Linked DNA regions of Homo sapiens. The protein of the gene in region 2 purifies or fractionates together with the protein of the main gene of each other region. This does not show direct contact. Each region holds a gene or a part of one and is shown on either strand. Other genes may lie near its edges.

Evidence for each region.
Region 1: the proteins of CELF1 (region 2) and MBNL1 purify together in Homo sapiens (co-immunoprecipitation; one study listed by IntAct). This does not show direct contact.

Annotation. Positions count from the first base shown.
Region 1 is NC_000003.12:152,271,929-152,275,428, forward strand, and holds part of MBNL1 (muscleblind-like protein 1), read left to right. Parts: intron 1-3,500. UniProt on the Homo sapiens protein: Mediates pre-mRNA alternative splicing regulation. Acts either as activator or repressor of splicing on specific pre-mRNA targets. Inhibits cardiac troponin-T (TNNT2) pre-mRNA exon inclusion but induces insulin receptor (IR) pre-mRNA exon inclusion in muscle.
Region 2 is NC_000011.10:47,542,866-47,546,903, forward strand, and holds part of CELF1 (CUGBP Elav-like family member 1), read right to left. Parts: intron 1-4,038. UniProt on the Homo sapiens protein: RNA-binding protein implicated in the regulation of several post-transcriptional events. Involved in pre-mRNA alternative splicing, mRNA translation and stability.

The DNA.
Region 1 (3,500 bases), on a different chromosome or scaffold from region 2:
AAAGTAAAACATCTGATTAATATTTTTATATTTATGATATGTTTTAATGATAATTTTTGATATATTGGTTCTAATAGAAGATCTTACTAGATTAACTTCACCTGTTTCTTTTCTCTCTCTCTCTCTCTCTCTCTCTCTCTCTTTCATGGTGTCTAGAAAATATAACAAATGTGGCTAACATCGTATTTATTTTGGACAGTGTTGTTCTAGGATAAAGCAGGAAAACAATATTCTGGGAGAAAGCTTAAAGATTTTGCTGGTCAAAACAATAAAATTGGCTTATTTTATTATACATAGAAATACCTCGTCTTTCTTATCCATTGTAACCAAAATTTGAGAAAACACACCACCTAACATCTATTTTTATTTCCTCAAAGCTGCTATTTAGTTTAGAGATTTGATGGTGAGGTAGTAATAATAGAGAAAAACTTATAATTAGAGAATGAGTCTTAACACCTCTCAAAGGCCAAAATAGAGTATGATTGTTACTTAGGAACATTTTAGAGACACTGTAGTTATCATTGTCCTGAAGTTACCAAACATAAACGAGTCACTAAAATTATTTTAAAATAGAGATTTTAGTAAATAGCAATTATCTTCAAATACTTAATATGTGTTTTCTTTTGCTAGAACTTTCTTTAGAAAGTTAAAAAAAAAAACCCATATCCAAAGTCCTGAGCAAATGTTAATAAAAGATTGCTGCATTCATAAGAATGAAAGATTTTTACCTGCAGATAGGAGGGTATTGTTTTGAATATTAGCAAAGGTGAAAATGTGTTTCTAACGTAACATTATGGGCTCTGAAGAATTTCTATACATGGAGACACTGTCTTTATAATTTGAACACATTCTTGAGAAGGCATCTGACTGGTAAACAAAGCACAATGGCATAGGTCCTGGAAACATTCCTTTCAGATATTTTCATAACTGAAGTACATTTTGCCATTCACAGTGAGTGTTAAGCTGAAAAAAATGTGGTTCTTTTCTAGCCATATAAAGTATGCTTACTATTATTTTCTCGAAGGATGCCAAAAAATGTAAAATGGATGTTGTGGATTCTTCGTGGGGAGGTTAGCTAGTTTGTATATAGAGCCTCAAGAAGAGTTGCCTCAGCTTGGTGCCATCTTGAGTCTGTCTTCCACTAGATGAGGCATAGCTTCCATTAGTGTCAGTGCGTGTGTGGAGGGTGAGGGGAAGAATGATCCCCATTAACTTTGTATATTGTTTCTGATGAGTCATGGAGCATATTCACTAATGGTTGGAGAATTATTGATTGCAAGGCAGAGGATTCAAGAAGAGCTATTGGCATATGGCATTAACTGTCTCTAGACATATTTTTTATTTTTAAATTTGAGGTAGAGAAATCGGTTTTTACGTAGTGTTTTTCATATTATAAAAAATAAACGTTTATATAAGCATTACAGATACATCCTTGAGGAAAAAAATAGTAAATACATGGTTATAGTTTTCTACATATTACCAGTTTTTTTCATAACAGATCCAGAACATCTCTTTCAGATAATCGTTCATGTTTTTAGAGAGGCATCTCATCATATGTGCCTGTGAAATCTGTAAAAATATGTGTAACACACATCTTGAAATATTTGTGTTAGGAGAATTAAGTCTTACACATTTGGTTCTTTTTCTACTGTTTTTGATTATGTTCTCTAGGTTACTATGATTATCTTTTGTTAAAACAGTTCAGGAAATATTAATCTCAAAACGAAATGTAGCCATATTGGACAGAGTAGAGAATTGCTTTTCCACAGAGACCAGTTATTCCAAAAAGGTGAAGATGTTTCTGAAATAATATCATGCTCATATGCTCCAAAAGAAAAACCATCATCTCTTTTGACATTCTTTTAGGAAACTGAGAGATGTATGTTTTATATACCAAAAGAGGTGAATAATAGTTGATAAAGGTATGCAAAATACATACTCCTGTGAAGTGTGAACATACAATTTGTATGTAACGCATGCATGAGCATATAACTTTCCCCAAGACAATGCCAATTTATTCAAATCACCTGAATGTTAAATAATATCATACTATTAAGAAGAATTGTGGTAAATATGAAATCTAAATACCAGTGATGATGTCCATGCTGATGTCAACTCCATTCCAGTCCTGCTTTAGCTAAATTCACAAAATGAAGAGATGTCTTTCTCCAAAGTAGTTTTCCAAAAATTTGTATTTGACACTGGATTTTTTCCTACGTTTTCACTTTTAAAAGTTTAGAAGCTATTAACTAAAAATGAACTTGTTTTAGAGAGCTAAGAAGATTCTAGATTTATGGGGACATTTAGTTCTATGAAATAAGCATTACGTTGCTGACTTGAAATATTATTCTATCATATAAAGTTGATTTATAAGTGAATACATATTGTGAAAAAATACCACAGTAGACTTAGTGAAATCTACCAAACTTAATCAAGATAGATATACGTTGTCCTCAAAAAAATAAGAATCTGGTAGGGAAAATAAGAGCTTCGAAAATAACTATAAAGTAGAAAGTGATATTTAATAAACAATGGCTGGGTAACATGGTATGAAAGTTCAGATAAGGGAAAGTCTTAAGATAACTCTGACTTGACCCACATACATGTAATAAAGGGAACAGTCCTTAAATGCATAAATAATGGGAACAAAAGGTATTCAGTATTTTTCAGCCTTAGCAAAATATTATTCTGTTAACGCAGTATTCTATTCAGCAATGGTTCCATATTTTCCATATGTTTATAGATAACATTCAGATATCGAATTTTCATATATGTTTTAATTCATTTATTTATTTCTTTTATCTAGGAGAAATATAATGGTTTCCAAATGTCCTATACTAGATTATTGATAGATTTTGTCATTAGTTTTACTATTGAATACCATGAAATATCAGCTGTTGCAGCCACTAAATAGTTACAAACTGTTGGTACTACAGTTTACTAGTCAATCCATGGTTATATGCTTGTGCTATGCTAAATATAAAGGATTCAAGATGAGGACTTAAGCAGTTCATATTTGTATTTAGAATATTATCAAAGATATTTTCTTAACTTGTCTCAGTATTAGAATTTACAGCCCATTTTCAGCTTATTGTATCCAGAAATTTCAATCATATCCAATAATTTATCAGCATTTGTTGATGACAGTAAAAGTGACACATTAGCATTTTATTTGTTTCTGTGTTGTTTGATTACAACAGTGACATTTTAGCACTCTTTGTGGACGGATAACTCTTCTAGTAGAAAGAAAGCAGGAGGGTGGTCAAGCTAAGTGACAGATACAAAGAGTTGGAGGACATAGGGCTTTCTGTGGGTAAGAAATGGATGAGAAAAGCTTTATGTCACTGACTAGGCTTGCAATTCAGTATTCCCCTATCAAAGGCCCCCTTACTGATGTTTCTGTTTACCAGATCTTGGTTTCAAGATGCCAGGTTCTGAAGAGATACACCACGAGTTCTTATAAACACTATATCTAAATTTGGTTTGAAAGTCTAATGTTT
Region 2 (4,038 bases):
CTCACACCTGTAATCCCAACACTTTGGGAGGCCAAGGCAGGAGGATCACTTGAGGACAGGTGTTCAAGACTAGGAGAGATCCCGTCTCTACAAATACTACAAAAATTAGCCAGGTGTAGCAGTGTGCACCTGTAGTCCCAGCTACTCGGAAAGCTGAGGCTGGAGGATCGCTTGAGCCCAAGAGTTCCAGGCTATAATTGCACCACTGCACTCAAGTCTGGGCAACAAAGAGAGATCCTGTCTCTAATGGAAAAGAAGGCCAGCATGGTAGCTCATGCCTGTAATCCCAGCACTTTGGGAGGCCGAGGCAGGAGGATTGCTAGAGACCAGGGGGTCAAGACCAGCCTGGGAAACATAGTGGGACCCCATCTCTACAAAAAATAAAATTAGCCAAGCGTGGTGTTGCGCACCTATAGTCCCGGCTACTTGGGAGGCTGAGGTGGGGAAGAATCACTTGAGGCCTGGGAGGTTGAGGCTACAGTGAGCCACGATAACGCCACTGCACTCCAGCCTGAGTGACACAATGAGACCTTGTCTCGGAAAACAACAGCCCAAAAAAGCCCCAAACTTTACAAATCTGGAACTTAATGAAGTGTAAAATAAACAAATATGTACTCATGGCCTCCACAGCACAGCAGAGGTTAAAAAATAACTATAGAATTCTATAAAGAAACCTCTACTTTAAGAAGATTCTAAGCCAATTCTATGACAAGACCAAAGTTATTTTACAAAGGTCTCATCAAGGAAACTGTCTTCAAGGCAGTCATGATGTTGCCCTCCTGTAATCAATCCCAACTACTCAGGAGGCTGAGACAGGAGGACTGCTTGAGCTCAAGAGTTTGCACCAGTTTGGGCTACATAGCGGACCCGTGGACCCCTGTCCCCACCCCGTCTCTAAAAAAAAAAGAAAGCTGTTTTCGGCAAATAAGGACTCTTGATACAATATAGTTTACAAAGCAAATAGCTAAAACTGATTAAGTCTTAAATCTGCATTACAACTCTAAATATTAGAGCCCTCCTCCCCGCCTCAACTTGTCACTTGAAACTACGAAGAGACCCAAGTGTCCCCTATTACAAATCCAAAATATTCATTTATAATTTTCAGTTTTCTTTGAACACAGAAGCCTCCTAACAGTAGACTCTCAAAGTAGAAATAGTGAATATGAAATCTAGGAAACCATATTACCCAAGTATTCCACAAGGAACAACGTCCTGTTTAGCACAGCATTTCAGACACACAAATCTTATCCCTTAAGCCACAACAGACACAAGAAAATGCAAAACAAAATGCACTCATAAAAGGGAACAAAAGGAACACTGACATAGTAGCTACTGCTCATCTATGTATGGCACTCCTAGGCAGTTCACCTGTGTTATTTATTTCATTTGGCTGAAATGCATTACTGACCCAAGAGACTAGTGGTATGCCCATTTTACACATGGAAAAAGAAACAGCATTATCAATACTGTATCAGGCACTGTTCAGTGCCTAGCATAAGTTACCTCAATTAATCCTCACATTACTATTCTGAGTTGGTATCTCCACTTTAAAGACAGGAAAACAGGGCCAGAAATGTTAACTGGTGGTACCCCAAATCCACTGTCCCAAGCTGTCACAGCTATCCTTACCAGGCTGTGTTTATAAAGCCCATTCAAGTCACATCATTCTTTCAAACCATTTCAAGGATTCCACAATCAAAAAATCAACTCTCAATTACAGAAAGACTTAATTCTCCAGATTTTCATCAAAATTTTCTTATTTCTATTTTATTTGCCTTTTGACCATTTCAGTGTACTGTAATTCTAGTATACGTGTTCTGGTAACTATAGGATTATATTAATAGCAATCAACTTTGGGAGGCTGAGGCGGGCAGTTCACCTGAGGTCAGGAGTTTGAGACCAGCCTGACCAACATGGAGAAACCCCATCTCTACTAAAAATACAAAATTAGCCAGGTATGGTGGCACATGCCTATAATCCCAGCTACTCGGAAGGCTGAGGAAGGAAAATCACTTGAGCCCAGGAGGTGGAGGTTGCAGTGAGCTGAGATGGTGCCACTGCACTCCAGCCTGGGTAACAACAGTGACACTCACTCTCAAAAAAATAAAAATAAAAAAATCAAGAATCAAAGAATAGGCCAGACATGGTGGCTCATGCCTGTAATCACAACACTTTGGGAGGCCCAGACAGGCGGATAACTTGAGATCAGGAGTTCAAGATCAGCCTGGCCAAGCCTGGCCAACATGGCGAAACCCCATCTCTAATAAAAATACAAAAATTAAGACCGGGTGGAGTGGTTCATGCCTGTAATCCCAGCACTTTGGGAAGCCGAGGTGGGCGGATCACCTGAGGTCGGGAATTCGAGACCAGCCTGACCAACATGAAGAAACCCCATCTCTACTAAAAATACAAAAATTAGCCGGGCATGGTGGCGGGCACCTATAATCCCAGCTGCTTGAGAGGCTGAGGCACGAGAATTGCTTGAACCCCTCCCAGCAGAGGTTGCAGTGAGCCGAGATTGAACCACTGTACGCTAGCCTGGGCGACAGAGCGGGACTCTGTCTCAAAAGAACAAATAAATACTGACCTTCATTCAGAACCATAAAGTCTCCAATACTCATTATTAAGAGGTTAATAACAAGAGTTATTAAGAGGTTATTAAGAGGTTAATAAGGAACATATTGTTAATAACAAGGAGCATTAAGAGGTTAATAACAAGGAGTGAATCTGAAGTCTTACAGCATAAAGTTTGCCTAGCTGCCAGAGACCTTATTTCTATTTCTTCTTTTTTTAGTAGAAAAGTTTTACAAAATTTGTAGGAAAATACAATAATTTTTGTATTTTTTGTAGAGATGAGGTCTAGCTATGTTGCCCAGGCTGGTCTCAAGCTCCTGAGCTCAAGCAATCTGCCCGCCTCAGTCTTCCAAAGTGCTGGGATTACAGGCATGCACCACCATGCCCAGCCCCTCTCTCTCATATGTATACGTGTGTGTGTGTGTGTCTGCGTGTGTGTGTGTGTGTGTGTGTGTGTGTGTGTGTGTATATATATATTTTTTTTTTTTTGAGATGGAGTCTCCCACTCTCACCCAGGCTGGAGTGCAGTGGTGCCATCTCAGCTCACTGCAAGCTCCGCCTCCCGGGTTCACGCCATTCTCCTGCCTCAGCCTCCCAAGTAGCTGCGACTACAGGTGCCTGCCACCATGCCCAGCTAATTTTTTGTATTTTTAGTAGAGACGGGGTTTCACCGTGTTAGCCAGGATGGTCTCGATCTCCTGACCTTGTGATCTGCCTGCCTCGGCCTCCCTACATCTTTTTAAGGGAGAAAAATAGGAGAAAGGCCTTTCATGCAATTGACAGATACTCTCAGTATCTTTTTTTTTTTTTTTTTGGGCGGGGGCCGGGGGCGGGGGCGGGGGAGGGAATGGAGTTTTGCTCTTGTAGCCCAGGCTGGAGTGCAGTGGCTTGATCTTGGCTCACTGCAACCTCTGTCTCCCTAGTTCAAGCGATTCTCCTGCCTCAGCCTCCTAAGTAGCTGGGATTACAGGCATGCGCCACCACACCTGGCTAATTGTGTATTTTTGGCAGAGACGGGGTTTCTCAGATGATCCGCCCACCCTGGCCTCCCAAAGTGCTGGGATTACAGGTATGAGCCACCACGCCGGGCCAACTTTCTTCACACTAGAACAAACTGAGAGACCTATGAGTATCTTTGAAATGTTCATACCTGAAAGTATTATTCTAACTAGGCCATTAATGACAGATTTACAAATTTATCTGTGCACAACATAAGATACCTAGAAATTGGTCCACCTAAGAAAGCCATTCATATATTATAGGTATAAAGCAAAGGCAGGAACTTGTCAATTCTTATCCTCTTCATGTGATACTTTTTCAGCACACATTTTTTGAAAACGCTGTGCCAGGCACAGTGGCTCACACCTGTAATTGCAGAACTTTGGGAGGCTGAGGTGGGTGAATCACCTGAGGTCAGGAGTTCAAGACCAGCTTGACCAACCTGGAGAAACCTCCGTCTCTACT